3 linked regions of the Homo sapiens genome follow. The gene in region 3 interacts genetically with the main gene of each other region. Each region holds a gene or a part of one and is shown on either strand. Other genes may lie near its edges.

Region 1 (3,649 bases), on a different chromosome or scaffold from region 3:
AAGGTGGAAAGGGCCTTCAGCGGAAGTCCAGGTTACTTACTAAAGCGGAATGGAAGCCAACAGATACCAGCGTTTATATTTTATTCAACTTTATTAAAAATTAAAACTACAGAAACCAAACCGAATGCACAAATAAGAGAGTGGGGAAACAGACAGGGAGCAATGGCAGCTGATAACTGTGGCGAGTGGATAATCCGCATGACTCACATCCCACCCCTGCGACTGAGGAGCCCAGAACGCTGCGCTGGCACTGTCGTGCCCTCTTCCACCACAGGGGCACAGAAACCTGCAGGAGACTGAAAACGATTACAAACATCTTCAACCAGCTCTCTGGCCAAAGGCAGCAAAAGCAGCCTGAATACGCAACTCACGCCAAGAGGGCAGCAGCTCTCCTGACATCCATGTAAGAAGGCTAACACCTAAACCACACGCAGGCATCCTGAACTCAGCAGCTCTGATCCAAGGTACTGAGTGGAGACAAAGCACTCGGAGGTGGCAAGATGTTCAGCAACCAAGTAAGACACACTGGCAAGGCATCCCACCCAAAGGTGAGAAGCACAAAGCAGGCTTGGAGAAACAAACAGTCATGCCAGGTGCAGCCAGACATCCTGCTATAAGCCCTGACCCTAGTACCCCGAGTTCATCAAGTGCTCTGGTTTTGTGTCCATAAAGCACAGAGGGCACTGACCACCCCAAACCAGAATCCCAAGGAATCCTTATGGATGGCATAGGGCCTCAGAACTGCTGCAGGATCATTTTCCTTTTCAGGTCGTGGCTGAACTTGTTCATCCTGAAGAGCTCACTGTCATAAAATGCAGAGAGGTTGTGGATGTTGATCTGACGAGCCTGCAAGGAGGAAGTGTCCAGTGAGCCATCAGTGGTGTGAGAACAGGCTGTTTCCAGAGCGCCCCAGTTACAGTGCACTTTCAGACACCATCACCTCCATTTATGGGAGGAAAATATCCAGGGGTGGAGAGGCCGATTAAGGGGCTTCAAATCTCTGCTGTACAAGCTGTGCGTGTAAACTGAGACAAGTTACTTGGCTGCCCTGTATCTGTCTCCACCTCTGCACAACAGGAAGGCAGTAACAGGACTCACCTCACTCCCCTGCTGTCAGACTACAGGCACAGAACTGGACTCAACAGACTGTAAGCATTCAATAAATGGCTGTCAACCAAGGCCCACCCACTTCATGACCCATTATGATGGAGCCCCCATCAGGAGACTGGCAGCTCCCAAGTCAGCATACCCCAACCCTCACCTCCCTTCCGGGCCCATACCTTATCCACCAAGTCCTTCTCAGGGACCTCAATAGTGTCCTGCTGGGCCCCAAAGCGGTTGCGCTGATATGTCACCTGCTCTGCCACTAACTGCTTCAGTATGAAGAGCAACAGCTCATTGTTGTCACGCCGGAATGAAAGGTAGCGGGCAAAAGTCTGCAGGAAAAAAGCCTCAGTCAAACACCCGCTCCCACTACGCCTGCCACACTCCCTTTACCCTACGTGCCAGCACCCAGGTCAGACAGGCTGCCGCTCCTGGGTGCACGTCCAGGCCAGAGCCCTGGATACCCACGTGTGGCCTCCTTCACTGAGCTTGCCCATCAGGCCCCTACCTCGGAGCACACCCACCTTGCGCATGCTGCGCATGACGCTGAACTTCTGTGTGTCTATGAAGCTCTCCAGCATCACGCGGATGGCCATGTTGACGTCGTCTTCGATCACATAGTCCCGCAGATGGATGCGCGCGTGGGCCTCCGCCATGCGGATCATGGACTCGATGTGCCGCACCGTAATGGGGATGCTGCCTGTCGCCTGGAGAGAAGCACAGTGTCAGGTCTTTCACGGGCAGGAAAGAGAAGCAAGGAAAATAAAGCAGCGGCACTCTTAGCACCCAGAGCCAAGAAGACCCATCTGACAGTGCCCCAGCAGAAATGCAGAATGCTTGACTGCGCTGCCCAGTGAATGCACACTTCCTATCCCTCCTGGAAATCAGAGGATGCCAGTGGATGCTGCATGCTTACGGCCTGTCACCATCACACCTGCACAGTTCTGCTCCCACCAGCTGACTTCTGTGCATCTCAGAGGCTGTTGTATTTGTGGCCAGCTGTATTGGTTATTGTCACACACTAAATATTGAATAATCCTGTACAATGTAAGTGCAAAAAAAGGTCGTTGTTTGTAGGAAAACTAAATTGAATGATCTGAAAAAACTTGGTAAAGTTAAAAGGCAGAAATTTGAAAAGCTGCTGTGTTGACTGGGTGTGGCTGAGGCAGCAATCTACAAGGACTCGGCATTCCCATGGCTTGCAAGCTGCTTTAAGTTTCCATTCCACTATGAATGAGCCAAAGACCTTGTGTTCATTAGAGTGAAATTTACACAAAGTCAATATGGAACTTAATAAGCACATCAACAATTAAGGCCTTGGCCCTACACTGAGACAAATGAATGCACATTTAAATTTCATCTAAAACAAAATGGTTAAGGTATATATTAATACCTATCATTTAAAAAAATATTTTTTTTTTGAAACAGGGTTTCACTGTGTCACCAAGGCTAGAGTGCAGTGGTGCCATCATAGCTCACTGTAGCCTCGAACTCCTGGGCTCAAGTAGATCTTCCTTCCTTAGCTTCCTGAGTAGCTGGGACTACAGGCACAAACCACCAGGCCCAGCTAAGTTTCAAAACATTTTTTGTAGAGAAAGGGCCTCACTATGTTGCCCAGCCTGGTCTTGAACTCACCTCAAGCAATCTTCCTGCCTTGGCCTCCCAAAGTGCTGGGATTACAGGCATGAATCACTGTACCCAACTTTCATTTTTTGTTTTTGTTTTTGAGATGGAGTCTCACTCTGTCACCCAGGCTGGAGTGCAGTGGTGCGATCTCAGCTCACTGCACCCTCCGCCTCCCGGGTTCAAGCGATTCTCCTGCCTCAGCCTCCTGAGAAGCTGGGATTACAGGCATGTGCCACCACACCCGGCTAATTTTTGGGTTTCACCATGTTGGTCAGGCTGGTCTCAAACTCCTGACATCGTGATCCTCCTGCCTCGGCCTCCCAAAGTACTGGGATTACAGGCGTGAGCCACTGTGCCTGGCACCTACATTTTTTTTTTAATGCCTCCCTGCTCTGGCACCTTTTGGCCTGACTGACCACCACCCCCGCTGCATTGGTCAGAAGGCTCACACTGCACTTCCTTCTCTGCATAGCACCTCCCGGCTCTGCCTGGGCTCTCACCATAGATTCTTTCCTCAGGTCACTGTACATCTTGGCCACCTTGTCCTGGTCCATCTGGTTGAGCTTCGGGTGGACCCTCTCCTTGGCGTAGATGATGTACTTCTTCAGGACCTCCTGGGGCAGGGGCTCCACGCCATACGTGTTGGGCATGGCGGGCTCAGCAGCGCTGCCATTGGCCAGCCCCTCCTCCTCCTTGTTGCTGGGGTGGTGTCTGACGTGGCTGCCCACCACGAAGCGGGCCAGCATCTCGTCCTAAGATAAGCCATGAGAGGGTGGGTCTGATTGTGGGTGTGCGTGGCTTTGGGGAGGTCAGTGGCTGGAGAAGGGCTGAGTGTGCCCTACAAGGGTGACACTCTTTCAACAAGACTGACTACACTGACCATGTGCCAGGCAGTTCTGGGTGTGGGTGGCAAACCAGA
Region 2 (3,649 bases), on a different chromosome or scaffold from region 3:
GTGGCAATTTTGTTTTTAATTTACATTAAACACGCACTAATATAAAAAAATTAGTTTGCAAGAGTTTCCAAAACTTAGCTATCTCTTTCATAGGTCTGAACTATAAAATTTGAAGTTTTAGGTATAATTAAAATGATATAATTCGGCCTGGTGCAGTGGCTCACGCCTGTAATCCCAGCATTTTGGGAGGCTGAGGCAGGTGGATCACCTGAGGTCGGGAGTTCAAGACCAGCCTGACCAACATGGAGAAACCTGTCTCTACTAAAAATACAAAATTAGCTGGGCGTGGTGGCGCATGCCTGTAATCCCGGCTACTCGGGAGGCTGAGGCAGGAGAATCGCTTGAACCCGGGAGGCGGAGGTTGCGGTGAGCCGAGATCACGCTCCAGCCTAGGCAACAAAAGCAAAACTCCGTCTCCAAAAATAAATAATAAATAAAAAATGATATAATTGTACCCGTTCTGTTCTTCAGGTCTCAAGTGGACTTAACTTTCCCTTAAACCATCTCTACCTGAAGTTTCCTCTTGGTTTATAGATAAACAATCTTCACCAGGCAGGGGACACCAGGCTATGGAGTGGATTTCATCATCATGGCCTCGAAGCCTATGAATAACTTCTCCTTTCTTACTGATGTCAATTATCACCACTATGCCATCCTTGTAGCTAAAAAACAAGAGTTAGAAATATTACTAAAAAAATGAAGACAGAACAGAGTCTCTAGTAAACATTTTGGCTTGGAGTTACCATTGGCGCATTCCTTAAAGTTAGGTGCATTTGGGGTGGCGGAGGAGGGAAGAGGACAAAAAATAATTTTGCTTTTTCCTTTTTTTAAAGTGCTCACCTTATGCCTCCTGGTTTTGTTAAAACCCTTCTCTCTATGATCAAACTCTTGGCACTAGGTAATACTATGTATGTTGCCTGGTACAAAACTCACAGTGGACCATGATTTTGTTCTAAGGGAATTTTCATAGTTTTTGCAAGGGTGCAGCAACTCTTCTTTTTTCCTTCTCTGTTGCCCAGGCTGGAGTGCAGTGGCACAATCACCACTTACTGCAGCCTTGACTTCCCAGGCTCAAGCAATCCTCCCACCTCAGCCTGGGACTGAGTAGCTGGGACTAAAGGTACATGCCATGCCCAGCTAATTTTTGTATTTTTTTGTAGAGATGAGGTTTCACCATGTTGCTCATGGCTGGTCTCAAACTCCTGGGCTCAAGCAATCTACCTGCGTTGGCCTCCTAAAGTGATGGGATTATAGGCATCAGCCACCACACCCGGCCAACTCTTCTAACTAGAGATAATTTTGTCCTAGTGCACTGGAAAATAATCTCTTTCTTTATAAGTGATACTACTTTTTAAACTGTGAACTTAACAAAAGTTGCAGAATTCTACACTCTAGACCTGCATATTCCAAGGCTGTCATTTTATGAATTCAAAAGAAACTGAGAAATTCTAATAGCTTTTTAAAAATGAATGACTTCAGATACATAAAAAAAGTAATCTACTACCCTGCCTAAGAAAAATAATTACCAATAGAGCTGAAGTCCTCTGTACATTCCACTTCAATCAAACCTCTCTCCTTGCCAGATCTCTTCTCCTTTTCTTCCTCTACCCAGAGGTCAAACTCTATTTGTGAATTGTGTTATATCATTCCTAGCCTTTCTTTGTATATATTCCTAAATAAGATATAGATTTTGCATATTTTAAAACTGCACATAAATGCTATCATCTATTTTCCTGCAGCTTGTTTTTTTCACTCATTCTGTTTGTAATTCATCCATGTTGATACACGTAACTCTAGTTCCTGGCCAGTCATTACACTATTGTATTAGTACTGCACTGTGTGAATATTTCAAAGTTTATTCATTTTCCTTTTGAAGGGCTTCCACTTTTTTACAACAAAAAAATGCTATTAATGTTCATGTACACATCTAAGACAATTTCAGGTTTGATGACTAGTAATGGAACTGCCAGGATGTTAAGATATATGCATTTTTATTAGAAAGTACAAAACTGCATTATACAAAGTGGCTGTACCTATTCACACTTCCTACACATTACAGCATTCGACAGGGAAGAACACCAGCACAGCTTTATTTATTTTTTTTTTTTAAAAGAAACACTAGAGTATGTCAACCTTTGAAGACCCGGACTTTGAAAACTGCCAAGTTATGCAACCTAATCACCAACAGATCAAGCTATTTAGAAATCTGAATCAAGCTTTCTGGGAATAATACTATTCTGAAGATCCTCCCCTGACTCCTGCCTACCACCTTTCTGTTCATCCTCTCTATCAACCCTACTACAACACTGCTCCCACTTCAAGAGACTGCCGATCCAGTCCCCTTCCATTTTCACTATCACTCACCCACACCTGTCTTTCCATACATCCCCCTACCCAATGCAGCACAGATTTCATGATCCATCACTATCATTGACTTTTTTTTTTGAGATAGAGTCTTGCTCTGTCGCTCAGGCTGGAGTGCAGTGGTGCAATCTCATCTCACTGCAACCTCCACTGCCCAGGTTCAAGCGATTCTCCTGCCTCACCCTCCTGAGTAGCTGGGCTTACAGGTGTGCGCCACCAAGTCTGGCTAATTTTTGTTTGTTTGTTTTTTTGAGACAGAGTTTCGCTCTTGTTGCCCAGGCTGGGGTGCAATGGCTCAATCCTGGCTCACCACAACCTCTACCTCCTGGGTTCAAGTGATCCTCCTGCCTCAGCCTCCCTAGTAGCTGGGATTACAGGCATGCGCCACCATGCCTGGCTAATTTTGTGTTTTTAATAGAGACGGGGTTTCTCCATGCTGGTCTTGAACTCCCAACCACAGGTGATTTGCCCACCTCGGCCTCTCAAAGTGCTGGGATTACAGGCGTGCACCACTGCACCTGGCCTGATTTTTTATTTTTAGTAGAGATGGGGCTTCACCATGTTGGCCGGGCTGGTCTTGAACTCCTGACCTCAGGTGATCCACCCGCCTCGGCCTCCCAAAGTGTTGGGATTACAGGTGTGAGCCACTGCGCCCAGCCTTATCATCAACTTTTAAAAATACCCGTACGCCCCGTCTCCTTCTCCCTCTCCCTCAAGAGTACTTACTCCACAAAGCCCCAAACCTGGCTGAATCCAACCATCTCCTTTCTCAAACAGTTTGGGTTTACTTTAAATTTATGGCCACGATTCTTTGTTTGCCACTCAACAGTGAACACTGGGCCTATAATTTTCCTTAGTACATTCGTTTTCCTATTCTCTTTGACCATTTTCATACCTTCTTTGCATATCCAGTTTCAACCCCATGATGAACTTGACTCTACCACTCTGACTTATGCCTCAATGAGAAAATCAGAAATACCAGAATAGAACACCTTTTTCTTCCAAGCACATCTACAAATCTACCTGCACCTATTTCTATATTCCCAGCTGTTCTTTCTTCTTGTCATCTGAATCCAATCCCCTCTTGACTTTTCAGCAATACCCCTGCATTTATCATAGTTTACTCCTGCAACAAGCTCTTCCTCTTTTCAAGCCTTACTTTCATCAGCATAAAAACAGGTCCCTGGTATTTTCCATTTAATACTCCCTTGACCCCATCTATCCCCTCTGGCTTCATGTATATGCACATTTTTACAACAAACTTTGTGAAAGAGTTGTTGTCTCT
Region 3 (3,649 bases):
GGTCCCACCATAACTACAAGTCTTACCTCTCCCATTAAGTCTTTATATACTTTTTTTCTGAGACGGAGTTTCACTCTTGTTGCCCAGGCTGGAGTGCAATGGCGCAATCTCAGCTCACTGCAACCTCCACCTCCCGGGTTCAAGCGATTCTCCTGCCTCAGCCTCCCAAGTAGCTGGGATTACAGGCGTGCACCACCACATCCGGCTAATTTTGTATTTTTAGTAGAGACGGGGTTTCGCCATGTTGGTCAGGCTGGTCTCGAACTCCTGACCTCAGGTGATCCACCAACCTCGGGCTTCCAAAGTGCTGGGATTACAGGTATGAGCCACTGCGTCCAGCCAAGCCTTTCCATACTAATTCTACTCATAATTCTACTTCCCTCAACACACAATCATTCCCCTAGAACTGATACTCTATGGATCCACTGCTAATCCTACCCAGGGCTCCATGCCCTCAAATCTTCCGCTGTGTACATGTGTTTATCCACTATCACATTTATCTACTATCTACTAAACACATGTGTACATGTGTTTATCTATTATCCACAGTGTTCTTGAAGGTCAGAGACCAATTTTTTTATTCCCTTATCTCTCTACTCAGTGTAAGTTAAGGCTTCAAACACAAAACACCCACACAAAAAACTATCCACCCCAGATTTCCTTACCTCCTTGTAAAGGGAATACAGGAAGACTGCTGTCTGTACAGTTTTCCCAAGGCCCATCTCATCAGCCAAGATGGTGTCAGTGCCCTGAGCCCAGGAGAAGCGCAACCAATTCAGGCCCTCCATTTGATAGGGGTGCAGGGTTCCACCTGTAGCATCCAGGTACTCTGGCTGTCGCTCATACTTCACTGTTGGCTGAAGGATGAAACAGAGAAGTCAAGAGCTGGCAAGGAACTCCCCTCCTCCCCTAATAGAGCAGCTGCTTCCTCCTCACTAGTCTTCACGGATCCTCTTGGGGAAGAGCTCCGGAAAATTCGGAGGGAAGAGATCCCCTATGATTACTGCAATTTCATGTTCAGTTTAGGGTCCTCCAGGAAACAGGGCTTAACCAGACCTGATTTTGATCCTACAGATCACTGAGGAAAAGCACGTCACAGACTCCCTACCAATACAATAATTCTACTAGTCAGGATCCACCAGGTAAATAATCGTTATGTCCCTCTTAGATTCATCTTTTTAACTTTAATCACCCTCAAATTACACTGTACAAACAAAACCCAGAGGAACTGAGCCTGAATTAAGCCAGATTCCTATGTAAGTGCATAAAAGCTAGGCTATGTGGCCCCTCCCCCCAGACAACACTTCTTCAATCATTCAAAATATACCTCCTTTTTTTTTTTCTGATGACAAAAGAAGAAAGTAATCCTAGTGCTTTCTGATATATAGAGATGTGGAGAAGTGGGGAAGCCGACTTTGTGAAGTAATCTCAGCTACAAAGTTACTATCTGCATTTCATTACTTAAGAGTACCATCATTAGACTGCAGCAAAGATACATTGTCCTACCCAACAAACTACAGTCCCTTCCACCCCCACTCACATCAACTGTTGGCGTTTCTGGAGGCCTCTCCAACTTCCGAAGCTTCACCTTCTTGAGCTTCTTGCCTGGTCGGCCTTCCTCACCCCTCATTAACTCCCTAAAGAAGAAAGACATCACACAGCTGCCCAAAATCCTTTTCTATAGAAGAAACAACTTGGCCAGGCACAGTGGCTCACACCTGTAATCCCAGCATTTTGGGAGGCCAGCACTTTGGGAGGCTGAGACGGGCGGATCACCTGAGGTCAGGAGATCGAGACCAGCCTGGTCAACATGGTGAAACCCCGTCTCTACTAAAAATACAAAAATTAGCTGGGCATGGTGGCAGACGCCTGTAATCTCAGCTACTCGGGAGACTGAGGCAGGAGAATTGCTTGAACCCAGGAGGCGGAGGCTGCAGCGAGCCAAGATCGCACCATTGCACTCCAGCCTGGGGGACAAGAGCAAGACTTCGTCTCAAAAAAAAAAAAAAAAAAAATCAGCTAGGTGTGGTGGCGTATGCAAATAATCCCAGCTACTCAGGAGGCTAAGGCAGGAGAATCGTTTGAACCAGGAAGTCGGAGGTTGCAGTGAGTCAAGATCACGCCACTGCACTACAGCTTGGTGACAGAGCAAGACTCCATCTCAAAAAAAAAAAAAAAGAAACAACTCTATGCCTCACCCAAAATCACTCACCTGTGATTCCAATAGCTCTGCTTGAACAGGTCGTAATCCTGGATCTCCACATCCTCACTCTCCCAAGAAGCCTGATCGTAAGGTAAGTCCCGCCACTTGATCAAGTAGTGGACGTGGCCCTTCTTGTCCACACTGCAAGTCCAGGAGAGAAAACCCTCAGAGCCAGAAAAGGCAACCCTCCTCACTTCCTCTCAAAAACTGGCAATACCGTTTGTTTCACACCAGACCTCTAGGTATGCCACAGATCACACGTTTTCAGAGCCTCTACTGTACCAGTCTCTGACCAAAAATTATCTCTAATTTATACTTTCCTAGAGCTCAAACACCAGAATTCAGTCAGTTAATAATTAACATAGAGTGTTGGCCGGGTGCAGTGGCTCACGCCTGTAATCCCAGCACTTTGGGAAGCTGAGGCAGGCAGATCGCTTGAGGCCAGGAGCTCAAGACCAGCCAGGCCAACATGGCGAAACCCGTCTCTACTAAAAAAAAAAAAAAAAATTAGCCAGGCATCAGGCCGGGCGCGGTGGCTCACGCCTATAATCCCAGCACTTTGGGAGGCCAAGGCAGGCGGATCACCTGAGGTCGGGAGTTCAAGACCAGTCTGGCCAGCATGGAGAAACCCCGTCTCTACTAAAAATGCAAAAATTAGCCGGGCATGGTGGCAGGTGCCTGTAATCCCAGCTACTCGGGAAGCTGAAGCAGGAGAATTGCTTGAACCCGGGCGGCGGAGGTTGCAGCAAGCTGAGATTGCGCCACTGCACTCCAGCCTGGGCGACAGAACGAGACTCCATTTCAAAAAAAAAAATTAGGCAGGCGTGGTGGCACACGCCTGTAATCCCAGCTACTCTGGAGGCTGAGGCAGAGAATCACTTGAGCCTGAGAGGCGGAGGTTGCAGTGAGCTTAGATCATACCACTGCACTCCAGGCTGGGCCACAGAGCAAGACTCTGTCTCAAAAAATATAATAAATAAATAAATAAATAGGCCGAGTGCGGCGGCTCACGCCTGTAATCCCAGCACTTTGGAAGGAGGAGGTGAGCGGATCACAAGGTCAGGCGATCAAGACCATCCTGGCTAACACAGTGAAATCCCGTCTCTACTAAAAATACAAAAAAAAAAAAATTAGCCAGGCATGGTGGCGATGGCCTGTAGTCCCAGCTACTCGGGAGGCTGAGGCAGGAAAATGGCGTGAACCCAGGAGGCAGAGCTTGCAGTGAGCCAAGATCACGCCACTGCACTCCAGCCTGGGTGACAAGTCTGTCTCAAAAAAAAACAATAATAATAAAATAAATAAATAAAGATAATAACATGAAGTGTCAGGCGCAGTAGCTCACGCCTGTAATCCTAACACTTTGGGAAGCTGAAGCAGACAGATTGCTTGAGCCCAGGAGTTTGGGACAGCTATGAGCAGTGATCACGACACTGCACTCAAGCCTGG

What was found.
Region 1: changes in CHD4 (region 3) and MCM2 together harm fitness less than expected from each alone (positive genetic interaction), as found in Homo sapiens cells (one large-scale study listed by BioGRID).
Region 2: changes in CHD4 (region 3) and GEMIN5 together harm fitness less than expected from each alone (positive genetic interaction), as found in Homo sapiens cells (one large-scale study listed by BioGRID).

The regions. Positions count from the first base shown.
Region 1 is NC_000003.12:127,618,860-127,622,508, reverse strand, and holds the end of MCM2 (DNA replication licensing factor MCM2), read right to left. Parts: intron 3,483-3,649; coding exon 3,231-3,482; intron 1,812-3,230; coding exon 1,629-1,811; intron 1,437-1,628; coding exon 1,281-1,436; intron 847-1,280; coding exon 736-846; 3' UTR 73-735; downstream 1-72. UniProt on the Homo sapiens protein: Acts as a component of the MCM2-7 complex (MCM complex) which is the replicative helicase essential for 'once per cell cycle' DNA replication initiation and elongation in eukaryotic cells.
Region 2 is NC_000005.10:154,931,589-154,935,237, forward strand, and holds part of GEMIN5 (gem-associated protein 5), read right to left. Parts: intron 663-3,649; coding exon 511-662; intron 1-510. UniProt on the Homo sapiens protein: The SMN complex catalyzes the assembly of small nuclear ribonucleoproteins (snRNPs), the building blocks of the spliceosome, and thereby plays an important role in the splicing of cellular pre-mRNAs.
Region 3 is NC_000012.12:6,593,794-6,597,442, forward strand, and holds part of CHD4 (chromodomain-helicase-DNA-binding protein 4), read right to left. Parts: intron 2,345-3,649; coding exon 2,213-2,344; intron 1,638-2,212; coding exon 1,541-1,637; intron 858-1,540; coding exon 666-857; intron 1-665. UniProt on the Homo sapiens protein: ATP-dependent chromatin-remodeling factor that binds and distorts nucleosomal DNA. Acts as a component of the histone deacetylase NuRD complex which participates in the remodeling of chromatin.